2 separate regions of the Homo sapiens genome follow, and region 2 is linked to region 1. The links come from fine-mapping of genetic effects on gene expression. A gene starts in region 1. The other region holds a variant in brackets. All regions are shown on one strand. Distances are between the middles of the regions. Region 1 holds the start of ASXL1 (ASXL transcriptional regulator 1). Region 2 overlaps KIF3B (kinesin family member 3B).

What was found. PIP is the estimated chance that this variant, and not a neighbour inherited with it, causes the effect.
Region 2: its variant is the best candidate, but not a certain one, in a credible set for the expression of ASXL1 in whole blood (TOPMed, PIP 0.74).

What each region holds. Positions count from the first base shown.
Region 1 is chr20:32,353,093-32,364,058 of GRCh38, forward strand. ASXL1 (ASXL transcriptional regulator 1) reads left to right here and starts at 5,239. Exons shown (of 13, transcript NM_015338.6): 1 at 5,239-5,740. The coding sequence starts at 5,684. RefSeq lists silencers at 2,471-2,540, 5,489-5,538, 5,779-5,938.
Region 2 is chr20:32,293,173-32,304,138 of GRCh38, forward strand. All of the region lies in intron 1 of KIF3B (kinesin family member 3B), which reads left to right. Among named protein-coding and RNA genes, the nearest start is that of KIF3B, 21 kb to the left of the region's middle. The variant G/A (reference allele first, on the strand shown) is at 4,709.

The DNA of each region.
Region 1 (10,966 bases):
CATTGTTGAGGTATATTGCATTAAGAATGGAATTTGTTTTTCCATCATAAAAGTAGCACATACTAATTCTAGGTTTTGAAAATACAAATATAAAAAAGAAAAAATATTACCCATAGCTACTACCTTAATCTAAATGTTCTATGTTTTGCGGTTGAAATGAAAAAGAATTTTTTTCAATTAAAAAGTGTAATATGGGCCGGGCGTGGTGGCTCATGCCTATAATCCCAGCACTTTGGGAGGCTGAGGCAGGCAGATCACTTGAAGTCTGGAGTTTGAGACCAGCCTGGCCAAACATGGAGAAACCCTGTCTCTACTAAAAATACAGAAATTAACCTGGTGTTGTGGCACATGCCTGTTATCCCACCAACTGAGGTAGGAAGATTGCTTGAACCTGGGAGGCAGAGGTTGCTATAAGCCAAGATCATGCCACTGCACTCCACCCTGGATGACAGAGCAAGACTTTATCTCAAAAACAAAAGGTAATATGTCCATGGCTCACAACTGTAATGCCAGCACTTTGGGAGGCCGAGGCAGGAGGATCACTTGAGGTTAGGAGTTCGAGACTATCCTGGGCAACATAGCGAGACCCTGTCTCTACAAAAAATTTAAAAAAAAAATTAGCTCGGGGTGGTGGGATGTGTCTGTGGCCCTACCTACTCCTAGCTACTCAGGAGTCTGAGGTGGGAGGATGGCTTAAGCCCAGGAGGTCAAGACTGCGGTGAGCCATGATCATGCTACTGCACTCCAGCCTGGGTGACAGAGTGAGACCTTGTCTCAAAAAAAAAAGACAATCAAAAGTTGCCATAGTCTGATGGTTACCCAGAGGTAACCATTATTGACATTTTGTTGCCAGGCACAGTGGCTCATGCCTGCAATCCCAGCACTTTGGGAGGCTGAGGTGGGAGAATTACTTGAGCCCAGGAGGTCAAGGCTACAATAAGCTGAGATTGCACCATTGCACTCCAGTGTAGGCAACAGAGAGACCCTGTCTCAAACAAACGAAAAAGACATTTTGGTAATTTAAACACGTTTTCCTCCCTACTGGGAGACTGAACAGCAGGATTTAAACGATGGTGAATGGAAGGTGAGCTATGAGTTAGGGCTGCCCATCACATGGGCAGATTCTGTGACTTAATGACAATAATAAGGTCATGAAGTCTCCTATACAGGGTCTTGCTCTGTCACCCAAGCTGGAGTGCAATGGCGCAACCATGGCTCACTGCAGCCTCAAACTCTTGGGCTCAAATGATCCTCCTGCCTCAGCCTCCTGAGTAGCTGGGACTATAGGCACATGCTGCCACGCCCAGCTGAAGTCATGCTCTCTATCCATGAGCATCTTTATAACTTGCATAGATATATTTGGGTGAAATCCTGTCTTGGTCTTTCCCGATTCTCCCTGAGCAGGTTCCAAACATTGTTTAGGGCTCAAAGGGAAATTAGTCTTCAGAGTTTCTCCAGTAAAGTAATTACGGAGATCGGGTCATTTATTCAACAGATTGGGTGCCTACCATGTGCCAAGACTGTGCCAGGCACTGGGGATATGATGATGAAACCAAAGATGCTAGCATGAACACAATCACTAAACCAAAGTCACACAAATAAATTAAATGTGGGAGGGACAAGGAGAGCTATACATGTACTGATCATCTGCTATGCTGGAAGTTTATTTAGCAAATGTAATCTTATTTAATCATCTGGACCCAAGGGAGGTAATCTGACCTCTCTGAATCTCAGCTTCATGTGAAAACGGGGATAATATTATTGAGAGAGAACATTTGTTACAGGGGCAAACCCTGTTCCAAGGTTTCTTTCACTCAAAGTATAAACAATGAGGCACTTTTTACACTTTAGACACTAAAACTTTTTGGAGGCAAAGAGGGCTGGTATTTAGTGAGTATCTGCTATGTGCTAGGCACTTTACAGAGATCTCATTTAATCTCAGTTCCATTCTTTGAATTTGCTATGTACCCTGCTGTCCAAATGACGGCACTGAGTCAGTGAGAGGTTTCATAACTTGCCCAAGGCCACAGAACTGGATGGAGAAAGACTGCAGAGATTCAAACCCAGGCCTGCTGACATGCAGAGCCAATGAGAATATATTATCTTGCAGTGCAGTTTATGGGATATATGTGTCCCTTTGGGAATTCCTGGGTGTCTGCTGGTGGCCTGTTAACTTGGTTCTTGAATATGCACTTTGCTTATAACTGTGCAGTTTGAAAAGTGACTCATCCCCAAACTAGGCAGGGTTGAGTGTCTGTCCTGTTTATCTTCCACATGCCACCTGCACTAACTTCTGAAGATAATCTATAATAAAAGCACTGTGATTAAAAAACAGAAAAACACACACCAAAAATGTATAGGTTTGTCTGTTGGTGCTTCTGACAAGAAAATAAACTCATGAATCTCATTAACTTTAAAAAAATCACATCTACTTAAGGTTTAATGACTAAAGCCAACTTTCTAACATATCTGTACCGTTCTCTGAACATACTGTTTTCACACTTAACTACGATGTTGTCACTTGTTTCTGTCTGATTCTGCAAGGGCAGAGACCTTGAAATATTCAAATCTGGATTCCCCCATGGTTTGACCCAGCTGAAGTCAGGCAGTGTTCGCTGAAAGAAATAAAGGTGTTTCCATAATGCCTGTATTAGCTTTCTTTTGGGGCTGTAAGAAGTTACCACAGATTTAGTGTCATAAAACAATATTCATTTCTGTTTCACGCTTCTTGTGGGCCCGACGTCTGGATTCCATGGCTCAGCTGATTCTCTGCTTCCAGTCTCACGAGGCTGAAATCAAGGTGTCTATATTCCTTTCTAGAGAGTTGGGGAGGGGGTATAATCTGTTCCCAAGTTCATTCAGCTTGTCAGAATTCAGCTCTGTGAGGTTGTAGGACTGAAGTCCCCATTTCCTTGCTGGCTCTTGGCAGGACTTCCTCTGAGCTTTTGGAGGCTGCCTGGATTCCCTGGCTTGTGGCCACTTTCAAAGCCAGTAACAGTGGGTTGAATTCCTCTCATACTTTGAATTTAATTCCTCTGCCTCATCTCTCCAAAACATCTCTTTTGCCTCCCTTTTGTGCTTTTAAGGGTTCATGTGATTACACTGGGCTCACCCATATAATACGGAATCATCTAATTTTAAGGGCTTTATTTCCATTGGCAAAATATCTTTTGCCAAAGAATGCTGGCTGGTAATCCCAGCACTTTGGGAGGCCGAGATGGGTGGATCACCTGAGGTCAGGAGTTCAAGACCAGCCTGGCCAACATGGAGAAACCCAGTCACTACTAAAGATACAAAAATTAGCTGGGCATGGTAGCGCATGCCTGTAATCTCAGCTACTTGGGAGGCTGAGGCAGGAGGATCGCATGAACCCAGGAGGCGGAGGTTGCAGTTAGCCAAGATCACGCCACTGCACTCCAGCCTGGGTAACACAGCGAGACTCTGTCTCAAAAAATAAATAAATAAATAAATAAAAAAGCAACATATTCACAGGTTCCAGGGACTAGGACTTGGACAGTTTTGGGCAAGCGGGGAAGACATTATTCTGTCTACCACAGTACCTGTATTAAACATGTAAATTTCAGTTATTCCCTGTAGGTCAGAGGGCAGTAAAGCTACTTCAGAAGACATCGGAAAGAAGCCAAATGACTTGCCAAAGAGTACTGTATCAGCCGTAGATTGAAAAAAAAGAAGTTAAAAATCCTTTGTAAAAAATCAAGGCAAACAGTTTTTTGAGGGACAGTAGTTCCTCCTTTCTCTCAGGGTAAAGCTAGAGAGATTTTTAAGAGGTGTCTTATTCTAACTTGCAGTCTTTTCCCTTTGTAGGATTTTGCTTACCGGACTCACAAGTTTTCTGTGACCAGTATTAGAAGCAGAAAACACTGAACCCCTTGGCGTTAGAGTTTGGGCTACACCATAATGGTCTCCTATCAATACTGGCTCTCGCTACGTGTTAACATTAGGGAGTGGAGAGTGTGTTTCCTCACCCAGGGAAACCGTTTAAATGTGGCCACTGATCCTGCCTTCATAGTTTTTAAGAGCTGGCATCAATCCAACTCCGGACGGACTCTAGAAATGTTTCTGGACAACGACTGAACCTATAGTTACAGAAAACCTATGTGCTGGGCGCTCTGAATTTCATTTCAGGTTCTAAAACTAAGGCTCAGAGAGGCTAAGTATATTGCCTATTGTTTCTCAGCTGGTAATAACAGCTACCATTTATTAAACATTTGCTCTATGCCAGGCGCCATATCATACGGACCTGATAATGTCAAGATCTCCCTTCACATCCTCTTCCAATCTGTCAAGAATTGTATGTTAATTTTAATTCCAATAATGCCATGAAATACAAGACAAATGCAGATCAGAAAACTGAGGCTCAGAGAGGTTGAGTGGACAGCCAGGGAGTGACTCAGCCAAGATTCCAGTCTAGGTCCGCTGGACTCCAGGGCCTGAATTCTCTCCAGGGTACTGCCTCTAAAAACGCCCTCAGGTGCATTCTGGTCAGTATGGCCCCAGAGTCCAAGTTCTTTACACGACCCGTCAACATATCACCAAGTTCCTAAGAACGCTCTAGGCTGCTGGTGCAGGCTCTGCAAATACACAGCGGCCTGAAAGCACAGGAAGAAATGAAGAACCGTCTAAGTCCATCAGCCGTGGAATAACCGTTTTACTGGTATGAGGGTCTTTTTGTCTCATTATTATGTGGCAGTGAGTCATTTAGAGGTGACCAAAAGGGAAAGTCCTGCCTCTCGTCCCCTACGAGAAGTGTAGGTAAGAACCGTTTAGGCGAGGAGAAGCACGAAGTGGGAACTGCGAGTCGAGCTCCCCATCCTCACTCCCCACCCGCACCCGCCAGGAGGTCCTGAAGCAAAAAGCACCGAAGGGGTTAAGGGTGGCCGGGGGAGCCCAGCCACCGCCCCTTCCCAGCATCGCCTCCCAGAATCCCGCAGGCCCCCAGCCAGTTCTCGCACCTCGCGAGACTCCACCCAGCCCCTTCCCCGAACAGCGACCCGTCCCCGTTCCTAGCTGAGGTCGGTGCTAGGCGGAGGACGCGAGAGGGAGAGCGGAAGGGGGCCGCCGGGCACGCCGGGAAGTGTGGTCCACGCGCTTCACGCGGCCATATTCTTCCGGAGCGGGGGAGGCCAGAGAGGCCGTTGGGACTACGACTCCCAGGCGCCCTTTCGGTTTGTTTTTGTTCAAAAAAAAAAAACCCCACACTCCCCCTCCTCACTCTTCACACACACTCACACACACCCACGGCAGACACGCACGCACCCGGGCGCCGAAGGGAAAGCCGCGTCTCGCCCTCCCGCCCCGCCGTCGGTCCTGTCTCAGTCCCTCAGCAGAGCGGGAAAGCGGAGGCCGGAGCCGTGACCTCTGACCCCGTGGTTATGCGGAGCCGCCGCATTCCTTAGCGATCGCGGGGCAGCCGCCGCTGCCGCCGTGGGCGACTGACGCAGCGCGGGCGCGTGGAGCCGCCGCCGCCCCTCCCCCACCGCCGCTCTCGCGCCAGCCGGTCCCCGCGTGCCCGCCCCTTCTCCCCGGCCGCACCCGAGACCTCGCGCGCCGCCGCTGCCACGCGCCCCCCCCACCGCCGCCGCCGCCCCAGCCCCGCGCCACCGCCCCAGCCCGCCCAGCCCGGAGGTCCCGCGTGGAGCTGCCGCCGCCGCCGGGGAGAAGGATGAAGGACAAACAGAAGAAGAAGAAGGAGCGCACGTGGGCCGAGGCCGCGCGCCTGGTGAGGCGGACAGCCGAGGGGGGCTCCGTGGGGCCCGGGGTGGGGGGGGCTCGCCGCGCACCCCCCCACTGGGGGGGGAGGGGCAAGGCCCTGCCCACCGCGGGAGGGGGCGGGGCCATCTTCCTTTAAGAACGGGACAGCCCCGCAAGGCGAGGGGTGGGGAGCGCTCCGCCGGGATGGGATGTGGCGCCTTTTTCCGCTCGCCCTCGCGCCCCCCCCGCCCCGCGCAGCTAAATTCCGGCGGAGGGGCGAGCTGGCAGGCCGGCTCCTCCCACTCTGGGCAGCGGGGTCCCGCGTCCCCTCCCCCACTATTTGGCAGCGTCTGGGGGTCTGGGGCAGCTTCGTTCATTCACCCGGGGGAGTTGGGTTTCCGGGAAGGGTCGGAAGCTCCTCCCTCGCTTCCTGGTGGGTAATGGGGTGGTGCCTTTGACTCCGGGGGTGGAAAAGCGACCCCACATTCAAGGACGCCAATGGCATGTTGAGCTTTCCCAATCTAAACCAGGTGCGTGGAGGGAAGCAAGTGCTTACTCCCAGCTTGAACCCTGAGCAGCGGTTCTCTAACTTTAGTGTCCTGTGGGCGACACCTGGGAGGCGGTTAGGAACGCTACTCCTAGGGCCCTTCGTAAGACCTGCTGAGCCTCAGGGTCTGGGATAGAGCCTGGGAATCTGCGCTTTCACCAGCTTCCCAGGTGATTCAAACGCAGTGGCTCACGGACCCCACTTTGAGAAACGCAGACTGGGCTGTTTGCCTTCAGAAGCTGGACTGGAAATTGGTATTTTGAGGAGAACTGAATCCACTTTGCAAAGAATGTATGTTGGACAAAGACAAAGTATCTCTGTTGGGAGACGTTGTTCACTGAGGATTTAGCAAGGGAGAGCGTAACTTGAGTGTTTGAAGCCGTCTCGTTCAACCGATGGGGGTTGTGAATTTTGTGTTCAGAGCGTCAGAGGACTTGCAGGTGAAATAGCTTCCTTTTGGATTACTCCCACAAAGCTCAGACACTTTGAGACATATTCGGGTAATTATCTGCTGATACCAGTAGTAACAGGTTATACTAAGATGTCAGTTCCTAAGATCTGTCACACAGCGAGGTTGTGGTGCGGATAGCATAAGTGTCTCTTGACACTGTAGTTTATATGTAATGGTTGTAATTCAGTTTTAATGATGAGTGAAGCTCAGACTTAATTTTCTCTCTTATTTTGAAGTGAGTTTTCTGCTTCAAAGGTGTTGTGCAAAAAAAAAAAAAATAGACTGTATTGGGGGGGTTGACACAAACCTGAAGTACACCTTTTTCTTTCTCGAAGTCTGTAAAAGTTACAGATTTATAAAAACTGAAGGAATTTGGGCTACAGAATTTTCATTGGTGCTTGCTATCCTCTTCCCTAGTCATTTGTTGCCCAGGGAACAAAAATAGCAATTGTTTGTATGCTGAAGTTTTGTGCTTCAGTTTATTTTGGCCTGGCATGTGAAGTTTGAAGATTTTGAGGTTCCGAAATATTTTTTTTCTGATTGAGTCAAAATTGGAAGCTTGGGCTAGTTTTCAGGATCTTGTAGAAATTTCAGGATTTCTCTAACGGTTCTGCACCTGGAAACAAATATAGGCCTGATGGGGAGTGGGAGAGAGCTCTCGTTCTCCTCCTCGACAATGAGTTTTGTGTGTTCATTGACATTCTCCTTGGCGTTCCTGTTATGCGGGTGTTTATGACCCTGGGCACCCAAGGAAATTTGCTTGCCAGAGTTTTACTTGTTAGAGGTAGGTGAAAGTACTTTTAAGTCTTGTGTTATTTATGTCTTGACAGAATTATGAAATCTGTTTGTCTCAAAGTTCTGTTGGCTCTTACTAGTTGACTTTAGGAATTTGGGGTCCACTGTTAAGTCTCTTTAGATTCTCGAATTTACCGTGGTCTGAACTTCAACATCGAGGTTGCTATTTCTGTTTTATCATTGACTCAACTTCAAGCCAGGTTATCAGGGTAAGTTATTCCTCTTTTTCTTCTAAGGCTCTTCATTAAAAATAGTAATATGAATAGGAATTACTTTGTTTGTTTGTTTTTCGTTTGTTTGCCACCACACCCGGCTAATTTTTTATTTTTAGTAAAGATGGGGTTTTTCCATGCTGGTCAGGCTGGTCTCGAACTCGTGACCTTAGGTTATCCGCCCACCTTGGCCTCCCAAAGTGCTGGGATTACAGGCGTGAGCCACCGCGCCCAGCCTATGAGTAGGAATTACTTTGTGGTGCTGTTATACATGTGAAAAAGGATTTGCGAGACTTTGGGAGTCTGAGGTGGAATAATCACTTGAGGCTAGGAATTCGAGATGAGCCTGGGCAACATAGACCCGGTCTCTACAACAACAGCAACAAAATGAGCTGGGCATGGTGGTACACACCTGTGGTCCTAGCTACTCAGGAGGCTGAGGATAGCTTAGGCCGAGGAGTTGGAGGCTGCAGTGCCCAATGATTGATTGTACCACTGCACTCCAGCCTGGGTGATAGAGGGAGACCCTGACTCTAAAAAAATAATGAGGCTGGGCGCTGTGGCTCACGCCTGTAATCCCAGCACTTTGGGACGCCGAGGTGGGTGGATCACAGGGTCAGGAGTTCTAGACCAGCTTGGCCAACAAGGTAAAACCCAGTCTCTACTAAAAATACAAAAATTAGCCGGGTGTGGTGGTGCACGCCTGTAATCCCAGCTACTGAGGGGGCTGAGACAGGAGAATCACTTGAACTTGGGAGGTGGAGGTTGCAGAGAGCCAAGGCCATGCCACTGTCCAGCCTGGGTGACAGAGCAAGACTCGTCTCAAAAAAAAAAAAAAAAGAAAAAAAGAAAAAGGACTTGTTGAGAATGTGATATGCAATTTGAGTATCTTGTGTGTGTTTTTTGTTTTAGAATTTTCCATTTCTTTGAATGGGACTGGATGGTAGGTGAGGGGGAACTTTTTAAGAGTCCCAGGCCGGGCACGGTGGCTCACGCCTGTAATCCCAGCTCTTTGGGAGGCCGAGGCAGACGGATCACCTGAGGCCAGAAGTTCGAGACCAGCCTGGCCAACATGGTGAAACCCCGTCTCTACTAAAAATACAAAAATTAGCCAGGCATGGTGATGGTGCATGCCTGTAACCTCAGCTACTCGGGAGGCTGAGGCAGGAGAATCACTTGAACTCGGGAGGTGGAGGTTGCAGTGAACCCAGATCACACCACTGCACTCCAGCGGCGACAGTGAGACTCTGTCTCAAAAACAAAACAAAAGAAAAAACCAGTCCTCTTAATGTTTAAAAAAAGTTGCTGTAACACTGTACTGGAGAATTTGTGAGAGCGTACACTGGACTGAGAGAAACTTGACTAGGAGGGAACGTAGGACAGTTGATTAGAACACCTGAACACTTCTCTTTGGGCAGGTGAATTTGGAGTGCTTGCAATGGCAATTGTATGCACTTCCATGGGAACGCTTTCAGATTGCTCCTGACCCCACTCAGATTGGTGACTAGAGTGTTACTGGGAATCCTTTTAAAAATTGTTTTTGTAGGCTGTGCGCGGTGGCTCACGCCTGTAATCCCAGCACTTTGGGAGGCCGAGGCGGGCGGATCACGAGGTCAGGAGATCGAGACCATCCTGGCTAACACGGTGAAACCCCATCTCTACTAAAAATACAAAAAATTAGCCAGGCGTGGTGGCGAGTGCCTGTAGTCCCAGCTACTCGGGAGGCTGAGGCCGGAGAATGGCGTGAACGCGGGAGGCGGAGCTTGCAGTGAGCCGAGATCGAGCTACTGCACTCCATCCAGCCTGGGCGACAGAGCAAGACTCTGTCTCAAAAACAAACAAACAAAACAACAACAACAAAAAAACCTTTCGTAGAGGAAAGAAGATTCTTAAGAATTTCAGTATAGTGTACCCCAGGAGATTGATTTTTGCAGATGTTAATTATGCTGTTGAAAAATAGTCTTTCTTTCACACATTTTGTAGTATTGTCTTTTCTAGGTGTAAGAAGTAGACCTTATGTGGTTGAGTGGATATAAATCCTCCAACTTGTTATAAACAGTTTGTTTGGGAGAAATAGCCAAGGGGATTTCCCTTTAAATCGAGGACGCTAAATGGATTCTCCCTGGCTTCGAGAAACTCTTTGTTGTATGCTTTATCTTTTACTTTGATTCATGACTGACCAGTTCTTACATCAAACATTTTTTTCCCCTTTGAAGTAAGAGAAGAGATACTTAAAAAAAAAAATGTAGTCTAGAAAGAGACTAGGAATAGAACACTGCTGACTTGTTCTTATACCAAGAGCTGGAGGCATAAACAGTTTTAATAAAAAAGAATACTTTGTATCTTTTGATGTAACTTCCCTTTAGAGATTCTGTTTCCCCTGTCTTAAATTCTCAGGCTATTTCTGATTGCTGTTTAAATAATTGGTAGTTACTATTTGAGTCATGCTTCTTAAAAAAAAAAGATATAAAAATTCGCCAGCTCAGCTTTCATTTAATTAGTATCAAAGAAATGTTATCTGTGGCAGTGAACATTAGTAGCTTGTTCCAGGGTTTATTGTAGGTTTGTTCAAGTCAGTACTGCCCATCTTGGCACTTAGGTTCTTGGAATACAGAGGTGGATAAGGTTTGCCCCTCAGGGCTTATGGTCTTCTGGGGATGAAGAAGGTCCAGACGCAGGAACAGAATTTTACTACAGTCATGATACGTGTTATCATAGTTGTATAAATCATAAACAGATATCCCAGTTGCTGCCTCTTGTCTAGTCATAGTTTCTCCTTTCACTCTCAACTGTCCTGGTTTGGAAGATAATTGTATGTGTTATGAAACAATGGGAACATTGAAAAGAGACATTTACCTCTGCCTGGCAGAGATCAGGGAAGGCTTCCTGGAGGAAGGTGCTTTCTGAGCTGAATCTTGAAGGGTAACTAGGAGTTAGGCCAATCACAGAGGGCATAAGCAGGAGCTGGTGACAACACATAGCAGGAGAGAAAGAGTCAGAGTGGGTGAGAGGGAGTGTGTGTATTTGCAACGTGTGGGAATTAGGTATATCTACAAATTATTGGAACATAAAGTTTGTAGAGTGTCACTGTGGATGGGTAGAGAGGCAGAGACCAGATTGTGAGGGTTCCATATGCCAGGCCAGTGAGCACCTACTCTGTGCCAGACATTGTAGGCATTACTTACATTGTCTCTAATCTGTCCAACAACTCGAGAGGAAGACATCAGTATCCTTCAAAAGAGAACCTAG
Region 2 (10,966 bases), 60 kb before region 1:
GACCCCAGGAGGTTGACGTTGCAGTGAGCTGTGATTGTGCCACTGCACTCCAGCCTGGGCAACTGAGACTCTGTCTCAAAATAAATGAGTGAATGAATGAATGAATGAAAGGAAGTAAGACAGAAAAGAAAGGAAAAAGAAGCAGCTAAGCATGGTGTCTGATGCCTGTAATCCCATACTTTGGGAGGCTGAGAGACGGAAGGATCACTTGAGCCAGGAGTTTGAGACCAGCCTGGGGACCAGCCTGGGCAACATAGTGAGACATTTGTCTCTACAAAAAATAAAAACAAAATTAGGTTTGGTGGCATGTACCTGTAGTCCCAGCTACTGAGGAGGTTGAGGTGGGAAGACTACCTGAGCCCAGGAGGTTGAGGCTATGGCGAGCCAACATCATGCCACTGCACTCCAGCCTGGAGTGCAGAGCAAGAGTCTGTCTCAAAAAAACAAACAAAGAAAACAACACAAAATGAGTTGGGGGGCGGGGAGAAGGAGTTCTCCAAGATTTATATAGGAAGAAGTACAGTGGTATATAGTATACTGCTACTTGAGTTAAAAAGGTTTAAAAGCAAAAGATGAAGATGAAGGAGCAATGCAGATATGTTAGGAAGATTTACATGTTCACTGTACACTCTGTACAGCTTGAATTGCGTTAATCTTTGCATAGACATACACATGTATATATGCGTATATATCAGGTGTTTTAAAAATATATGGGTTTATATATGGGTTTTAAAATAAGACAAATCTGGTTTTGAATCCTGACTCTTCCACTTAATTGTCGTGTAACCTTGGGCAAATTAATTTCCCTGAGTCTCTGATCCTTATTCTTTAAATGAGGCTAATGCCTGCCTTCCTCCCAAGGTGATTTTGAGGATTAAAAGAGGACTCACATTAAGCTCTTGGTATACTGTGAGTTGTGACTATTGAATACAATAAAACCCAAGAACTGCATTGATTCTGAATAGTAGGTGTTGTCCAACAGACTTGAATATATTTTTGAATGTATTTTATGTTTTACAATTGAATGCCAAAAAGAGTTTCTTTTCTTCTTTCCCTGCCTAAATAAATGCTTTGTTTGCCTCTTTGTGTCATCAAATGACAGAGAGTACATGGCGCCAGTTTGAATTCAGGGCAGGCATTTATTGTCCTTGTTACTTGACTGTGACGTTTTTAGGTTTCTTTCCGGAGAACTAGCGTGTCTTCTTCAGACATTTAAGCTGAAATCAAAGTTCTGGACTTTTCTCCAAAGAAAACATTGCTTTATTGCTTCCCCCACCTTAATTATAAAAATCAAAATACATGCACCCATCAAAAAATACAAAGAAAGCAAAAAAATAGCCTGCAGGCGCACCACCCTAGAGGTCAATATTACCTGCATTTCATGAGTATTTATTAGTACTTTTCAATGTTAAAAGCTAAGCATTTAACATTCATTAGTTTATTTAATCCTCAGAACAGTTCTTTAAGGGAGATATTGCTATTAACCATACTTGGTGGAAGAAGAAACTGTGACTTAGTTTCTTGAGATTTTATAGCTAGTAAATGGCAGAGCAGAAATTCAAAGCCAGACCTGCTGAACACCTCAGCTCATGCTTTTAACAATGTCTTTACTCTGTGTTCCCCAAATCTGCATCTGCACATGTGCCTGTACACATAAACATTAACTGTATCATAGTAATTCTGTTTAGTAGCCTTTTTCTTCACTCAGCAATATGTCTTGAATATTGCCCATATCTAAATACCTAGAGGTTTGTTGCCATTTTTAATGACTTCATAGTTTCCCATTGTAGAGATGTGCCATAATCTAACCACTCCCTTATTGATGAGCATTTAAGTGCTTAGAGGTGGTGATGTGACAAACACAAATTGTGTATTACATTGTTGCACATGTATTTAGTTACTCAATTATGTCCTTAAAATAATTCCAAGAAATGGAATTGCTGTTTCAAGGGAGTATTCACATTTAGAGTTTTGGTACTGATTGCCTGACTGCCCTCAAGTATGTTGTGCCAATTTGAGATGCTGTGGCTCTTATATGTTCTTTCTGTAAGGGACATTTTGAAACTTTTTAGACAGTTCACGCAACTGTTTGGCTTACAAAAAAGGTGACGCCCCCCGCCCCCTTTTTTTTTTCTTTTGTGACAGAATCTCGCTCTGTCGCCCAGGCTGGAGTGCAGTGGTGCGATCTCAGCTCACTGCAAGCTCCGCCTCCCGGGTTCACACCATTCTCCTGCCTCAGCCTCCTGAATAGCTGGGACTACAGGTGCCCGCCATCATGCCCAGCTAATTTTTTTGTATTTTTAGTAGAGACGGGGTTTCACCGTGTTAGCCAGGATGGTCTCGATCTCCTGAGATCGTGATCCACCCGCCTCAGCCTCCCGAAGTGCTGGGATTACAGGTGTGAGCCACCACGCCTGGCTGACCTTATGTTTACAAATAATGCCTGTAATAACAACAGAATATATTTCATTACTTTCTTATTTGACGTCTATGCTCTAAATGCTTTTTAGAGCCGTCACTGCATGACTTGCTACATTTACCTTAGAAAGTTAAAAATTCTAGTGCTGTGGACCTAATAGAAACTGTTTTACGAAGCTTCATCATAAATTTAGGATAAGTAGGTCCCGAATTTAGGTCTCCTAGTAGGTCCCCTCATTTATCAATTAAAACATTTTTATTATCTTTTTTTTTTTTTTTTTTTTTTTAAATTGAGACAGAATCTTGCACTGTCGCCTGGGCTGGAGTGCAGTGGCATGATCTCAGCTCACTGCAACCTCTGCCTCCCGGGTTTGAGTGATTCTTCTGTCTCAGCCTCCCAAGTAGCTGAGACTACAACTGCCTGCCACCACGCCCGGCTAAGTTTTGTACTTGTAGTAGAGACGGGGTTTCACCGTGTTGGCCAGGATGGTCTCGATCTCTTGACCTTGTGATCCACCCGCCTCGGCCTCCCAAAGTGCTGAGATTACAGGTGTGAGCCACCACACCCGGCCCATTTTTATTATCTTATATTCATGGTGGTCAGCACAAATGGATAGATAAAATGGGAAAAATGAGTAACCCCTGTATATTTGTTTAATTTCACAAAGCCTTTCCATCTCTCTTTCCCCTTGATTTTATTTTATTTTTTGACTAAGTAATATATTTACATGATTCAAAACTCAAGAGATATTAAAGGGTAAACACACTTTGGGAGGCTGAGGTGGGCAGATCACCTGAGGCCGGGAGTTCAAGAACAGCCTGGCCATGGCGAAACCCTTTCTCTACTAAAAATACAAAAATTAGCTCGGTGTGATGGTGGGTGCCTGCCATCCCAGCTACTCGGGAGGCTGAGGCACAAGAATCGCTTGAATGGGAGGCAGAGGTTGCAGTGAGCCAAGATTGCACCACAGCACTCCAGCCTGGGTGACAGAGTGAAACTCGGTCTGAAGAAAAAAAAAAGGGTATATAATGAAAAGTTTCTCTTCTACTTTTGGCCCTCATCCACCTAGCTCTTTTAGGGAAAGCCAGTGTTGTTATCTGGCAATTGTTACATGGTTCTTGTGAATTCTTTCAGATATATTTTATGCACATATAAGCAAATGTAGAACCATTTTCTCAATATGTATAAAACGTCTTTTTAAAAGTTCTGCAGGACAGTGGTGTTATTTTTCAACCCAAGATGGATAATCTTGTTTTAAAAAGTGTGTAACTCCCTTTGTGAAACTGGCCATCATAGGAACCAGAGACCTAGAATTGGACTTGCTTTCATGGTGTGGTTCAGGGATTGCAAACACGGAGTCCTGATACTTCAAAAACAATTAGAAATAATTGTAAAAAGGAGTAGTGTTGATGGTGATGAGGTGGATACAGAGTAAAAACAGCTGCTTCCCCCGAGAGAAGCCTGTCCAGGGAATTGGTTTAGGCTGCTTAGCAGGGAGTCGCTTTTACTTCTTGCTCGAGTGTTGCAGTGCTTTTCTGATGGCTCATGTGATCTTTGGCTTGGGCTGCATTTCAGATACTCTGAGTATTTGAACCCTGGGCCAGGCAGTTGGCAGGTGGTTGCGTGATCTGATCTTAGAGGACATTGCTTTGGAATGCATTGATTTGAGGTGCGTTAGTATGCACTCTGTGTGCCCACAGGTTGCACCTCCTTGCAGGGTTGTTCCTGGGGAATTGCCAGACCTCTATTTTTTCCCATTTGGAGATACCACATACTCATTAAAGAGAATTTGGAAAATACAGAAATGTTGAAAGAGCAGGGGAAATCACCTATACTATTACCCAAGGTTGACCACTATTGATGTTTTTACGTGTGTCTTTATTTTTATATAATTGTGATTGCATGCAGTGATTCAATTTTGTAAACTGCTTTTTCATTTATGATAAGCATTTTCCATGTCATTACAGAGCCTCGGCAAATGGCATTTAAAAAGATGGGCTAGTATGTCGGGCCTTTCTTAATCAAATCATACATATATGAATTTGGTCATAGACAGAGATGTCTACAAGAGCCAGCCAGGAAGTATAAATGAGCAAAGCATGCTAGATATGAAACAGGAGATAGTGGGGTTGGGGAAGATTCCTATTGCTGCCACTTGGGGTTCAGGTCAAGGGCTGTCAGATATTCCCATGTTTCCAGAGAAGTGGATTTTTTTTTTTAATATGAAATTGTTAGGCCGGGTGCTGTGGCTCACGCCTATAATCCCAGCACTTTGGGAGGCTGAGGCGG[G/A]CAGATCACCTGAGGTCAAGAGTTTGAGACCAGCCTGACCAACATGGAGAAACCCCATCTCTACTTAAAAAAATACAAAATTAGCTGGGCAAGGTGGCGCATCCCTGCAATCCCAGCTACTTGGGAGGCTAAGCGGGGAGAATCGCTTGAACCTGGGAGGCGGAGGTTGCAGTGAGCCAAGATCATGTCGTTGCACTCCAGCCTGGACAAGAGTAAAACTCCGTCTCAAAAAAAAAAAAAAATTGTTGTTTTTTTGAATTAAAAAAAAAAATTCAGGCCTGGTGCAATGTCACACCAGTAATCCCAGCACTTTGGAAGTCCAGGGTGGGTGGGTCACTTGAGGCTGGGAGTTCGAGACCAGCCTGGCCAACATGGCAAAAACCCAGCCCTACAAACAGATACAACAATTAATTGTGCATGGCGGCCTGAGCCTGTAATCCCAGCTACTCAGGAGGCTGAGGCGGAAAATCGCCAGGGAGGCGGAGGTTGCAGTGAGCTGTGATTGCGCCACTGCACTCCAGCCTGGGTGACAGAGTGAGACTCTATCTCAAAAAACAAACAAAACAAAAATTCAGAGAATAATATAAGAAATAGAATCAGCAAAGTAAGGGAAATGTTATAAAGCTTGAAACCTTCCTGTTTTTGTTTTTTAAGAGAAAGGATAAAGTATTACAGATAAAGTTGAAATATCCTTCCCATCTCTACTCCCATTATCCATACTTCCCATTGCCCAGTTTGGGCAGCCACTGTCATAAATTGTTATATATCCTTCTATCTCCCCTCCCCTCCCCTCCCCTCTCTTCCCCTTCCCTTCTTCAGAGACAGGGTCTCACTCTGGAGTGCAGTGGTACAATCGTGACTGACTGTAACCTCCACCTCCTGGGCTCAAGTGATCCTTCCACCTTTTTGGAGTAGCTGTAGGTAGTAGGCCACCACACTGGGCTAATTTTCATTTCTTGTAGAAATAGGGTCTTGCTCTGTTGCCCTGGATGGTCTCAAACTTCTGAACTCAAGTGATCATCCTCCTACCTCAGCCTACCAAAGTGCTGCAGTTACAGAGGTGTGAGCCACTGCACCCATCCTATCCCACTTTTTAGTACTTATACATACATAAATGCAAATCCATGAGCACCGTATTTTTTTGTAAATTCCTAATCGTAACTGTCACTCTGCAGCTTTGTTTCTCACTCAGCCTATTTATTTATCCATGTTAAATCTGTAAGCCTAATTCAGAGATTGGCAAACACTTTCTGTAAAAGGCCAGATAGTAAATATTTTAGTATTGTAGTCCATATTGTCTCTATTGCAACTACTCAACTCTATTCACCTCTATAGTTAATGCAGCAGTAGATAATATGTAAACTAAGGAATATTGCTGTTCTAATATAACTTTGTTTACAAAACCAGGCTCTGGGCCAGATTTGTATCCTGGACTGTAATTTGCTGACCTCTGCTCTAATTTATTCCTTATAACTTGTAACTACTGAATGGTGTGTGTGTATATATATATATATATATATATATTTTTTTTTTTTTTTTTTTTTTTTTGAGACAGAGTCTTGCTTTATCACCCAGGCTGGGGCACAGTGTCGCAATCTCAGCTCGCTTGCAACCTCCGACTCTTGGGTTCAAGTGATTCTCGTGCCTCAGCTTCCTAAGTAGCTGGGATTACAGCGCATCGCAGCATGCCCTGCTAATTTTTGTATTTTTTAGTAGAGAGAGGGTTTCGCCATGTTGGCCAGGGTGGTTTCAAACTCCTGACCTCAGATGATCCTCCGGCGTCAGCCTCCCAAAGTGCTGGGATTATAGGCGTGAGCCACCACACCCAGCCATATTGTCTATAATATGAATATATCATATTTTATTATTCAATTCCCCTATAAATGGATGTCTAGGTTGTTTCTAGATTTTTTTTGTTTGTTTTTTGGGACAGGGTCTTCCTCTGTGACTCAGGCTGGAGTGCAGTGGTGTGATCCTGACTTGCTGCAGTCTTAACCTCCTGGGCTTAAGCAATCCTCCTGCCTCAGCCTCCCAAGTACTGGGACTATAGGCATGTGTCATCACGCCTGGCTAATTTTTAAAGATGGGGTCTCCTTCTGTTCCCAGGCTGGTCTCCAACTCCTGGACTAAGGCAATCCTCCTGCCTTGTCCTCCCAAAGTACTGGGGTTATAGGTGAGAGCCGCCACACTGGCCTGTTTTGTTTTGTTTTGTTTTGTTTTGTTTTGTTTTGTTTTGTTTACAGATAGTGTCTCCCTCTGTCACCCAGGTTGGAGTGCAGTAGGGCTATTATGGCTCACTACAACCTCCAACTCCTGGACTCAAGGTATCCTACTGCCTCAGCCTCCCAAGAAGCTGGGACTACAGGTATATTCTACCACACCCAGCTATATTTTTTAAATGTAAATTTTTTTTTTGAGACAGAGTCTCTCTCTGTCGCCCGGGCTGGAGTGCAGTGGTGCGATCTCCACTCACTGCAAGCTCCGCCTCCCAGGTTCACACCATTCTCCTGCCTCAGCCTCCCGAGTAGCTGGGACTGCAGTCGTCCACCACCACGCCCCCAATTTTTTCTGTATTTTTTTAGTAGAGACAGGATTTCACCGCGTTAGCCACAATAGTCTCCATCTCCTGTCCTTGTGATCTGCCCACCTCGGCCTCCCAAAGTGCTGGGATTACAGGCGTGAGCCGCCGCACCCGCTGATTTTTAAAAATTTTTTTGTAGAGATGGTCTCACTATGTTCCCCAGGCTGGTCTTGAACTCCTGGCCACAAAGAATCCTCCCACCTCGGCCTCGCAGAGTGCTAGGATTACAGGTGTGAGCCACTGCATCCAGCCTGTTTCTAGTTTTTCTACTGTGATAACCATGCTGCAGGAAGCAATCTTGTCCATGTTTTCTTGTGCACATATGCAAAGCTTTTTACTAGGATATACATAGATAGAGAAGTGGAATTGCTGAGGATTTTGTTGTTGTTGTTGTTGTTGTTGTTGTTGTTTATTTTTACTTTTGGAAACAGGGCAAGACCTAGCACCAGGCTGGAGTGCAGTGGTGCAATCATGGCTCACTGTAGCCTTGACTTGGGCTTACGTGATCCTCTCGCCTCAATCTCTCGACTAGCTAGGACCACAGGCAAGCGGCACCATGCCCTGCTAATTTTTAAATTTTTGGTGGAGATGGAGGTCTTCCTATGTTGCCCACGCTTCATGGTCTTTTTTTTTTTTTTTTTTTTTTGAGACAGAGTCTCACTGTCACCCAGGCTGGAGTGCAGTGGCGCAATCTCGGCTCACTGCAGCCTCCACCTCCTGGATTCAAGCAATTCTCCCGCCTCAGCCTCCCAAGTACCTGGGACTACAGGCACATGCCACCACACCCAGCTAATTTTGGTATTTTTAGTAGAGACGAGGTCTCAAACTCCTGACCTCAGGTGATACGCCCGCCTCGGCCTCCCAAAGTGCTGGGATTACAGGTGTGAGTCACTGTGCCCAGCCCATGTTTTATTTATTTATTTATTTATTTTTGAGACGTAGTTCTGCTCTTGTCAACTAGGCTGGAGTGTAATGGCGCGATCTCAGCTCACTGCAAACCCTGCCTCTGGGTTCAAGCAATTCTCCTGCCTCAGCCTCCCGAGTAGCTGGGATTACAGGCGCCCACCACTATGCCCAGCTAATTTTTGTATTTTTAGTAAAGACGGGGTCTCACCGTGTTGGACAGGCTAGTCTTGAATTCCTGACCTCAGGTGATCCACCTGCCTCAGCCTCCCAAAGTGCTGAGATTACAGATGTGAGCCACCATGCCAGGCCCATGTTGTTTTAAATACCAGGTGGGCCAAATGAAATGTTTTAGATAGAATGTAACCAGTTTGTGACCTCTCTCTTACGCTTTCCATAGGAAGCCAATAGTTACTGAGAATCCAATTCATACCTAGTTCTGGACTTTGAGGTGAGACTCTATGACAGCTAGCAAGGTGAGGATGCGTGAATCTAAACACAAAAGAGTTGGAGAACGGTCTGGAAGAGTGTGACTGCCGTGACAAATGTGCATCTGATTTCCTCAGCAGATAAAAGAGTTGAGGTTGGGGAATTACTCAATTTTTCATGTTCAATAACCATTCAAACAGTGGGTGTTAACATTGAATGACAAGTTCTAGCAGAAAAGGTCTTCAGGATGAAGGCGATGAGCTGCTGATCTGTGCTTCCTTCTTTCCTGGCAATTCTGTGAGTTTCTTTAAAGATTTATCACTCTAATTAGACCCACTGGAAGAATAACAAAGGTAATAAAGAAAGAGTATCAGGGCATCCTTCCAAGAAAACTCTCTCCTTTGAGGAAGACCCAGAATAAGATTTTAAGCCTTGGTGGCAGGAAATTAACTTAGTCCATTTTCCTGAAAGAATATGTCAATAATACATGACTAGTTCAGTCTAGCTGGGTGAGTTCAGAAAAGAAATGGTGTTCTGTGTTCAGAGTTGAGGAGATTTAATTAAGGGGACTCATGCTTTGGGAATTCCTTCCTTTTTAAAGATTTTTAAGATTAATGTAGGTCATTATCATTCCTTTGTTTCTATCATTTTGGAGAGCTCAAAAAATATATGGAGCTATTACAAAGCAGCTGAACCTCAAGGTCAGCTTGCTGCAGGCTTTCTTTCTTCTTTCATAGGCTTGGAGCCCCATTGTTTTGACAGGTAAAAGTCGGACAGCTCCGCCTTCTCAGAAGTCTGTAATGCAGAAGAATCAGTCCTCTGCACTGACCTGTCTCCCTGTCCTGCCCTGCCATTCTGTTTCTCTTACTCTATCAGGTCTAGGATCTTGTCTGGCAGGCTCGTGCACTGAAACAGAGGTCTTCCCAGAGGATATCAGGGGCTGGGATTTTCCCTTTGCACCTAGATCAGCTTTGGCAGGCGTCTGTTGAAATGGAGGGAGAGACAGGCCGTAGCTCATGAGCCATTCCCCTGAAATGAAAAGACGCAGGAAACTGGCCATTCTAACATCTGTCTCTTTCTTCCCATCTGGCAAAATTCTAATAGCATGTAGAAGAAGTTTGTCCAACCCGCGGCCCAGGATGGCTTTGAATGTGGCCCAACACAAATTTGTAAACTTTCTTTAAACATTATGAGATTTTTTTTGCAATTTTTTGTTTAACTCATTAACCATCGTAGTGTTAGTGTATTTTATGTGTGGTGTGGCTCAAGACAATTCTTCTTCCAGTGTGGCCCAAGGAAGCCAAAGATTGGACACCCTTGATCTAGAAGATAATGACTACATTCCTGAAGGGCTTCCTTTTGCATAGTTTTCTTTACACGGCTTGAGATTTAGTTCTTATTGAACATCAATTAGGTATTTAGATCTCAATTTAATCTGAATTTTTTTTAGGATGATTGTTACAAACTGAACAATAGAAATGTTATTTTAGAGTGGGCGCTGTGGCTCATGCCTGTAATCCCAGCACTTTGGGAGGCTGAGTGGGGTGGATCGCCTGAGGCCAGGAGTTCCAGACCAGCTTGGCCATCATGGTGAAACCCCATCTCTACTAAAAATGCAAAAATTAGCTGGACCTGGTGGCGGGTGCTTGTGATCCCAGCTACTTGGGAGGCTGAGGCAGGAGAATTGCTTGAACCCGGGAGACACAGGTTGCAGTGGGCCGAGATCATGCCACTGTACTCCAGCCTGGGTGACAGAGCGAGACTCCGTTAAAAAAAAAAAAATGTTAATTTAGGCTGGGTGCAGTGGCTCAAACCTGTAATCCCAGCACTTTGGGAGGCCAAGGCAGGTGGATCACCTGAGATGAGGAGTTTGAGACCAGCCTGGCCAACATCTCTACTAAAAATACAAAAATTAACCATGTGTGTTGGTGGGCACCTGTAATCCCAGCTATTCGGGAGGCTGAGGCAGGATAATTGCTTGAACCTTGGAGGCAGAGGTTGCAGTGAGCCAAGATTGTGCCATTGCACTCCAGCCTGGGTCACAAGAGCAAAACTCAGTCTCACAAAAAAAAAAAAAAAAAGAAAGAAAAAGAAATGTTATTCTAGTGATGTTTAATGCATAAAATTAGGCCTCATCCTTAATCTCTGGAATGACCCTCTGACAAGGGTTTTGGATGAATCTGTATTGTTATTTTAATCTAGCTTTGTATTAGTTTACAAAGTACTTCCACCCTTATAAGCACCTCTTAGTCTCATAATCATCCATAAGAAAGAAGAATTATACCTATTTTTTCAGATTTACAGAAAACGGGTTCAGAGAGGGTAAGACGTCTTCTGGATTTCTT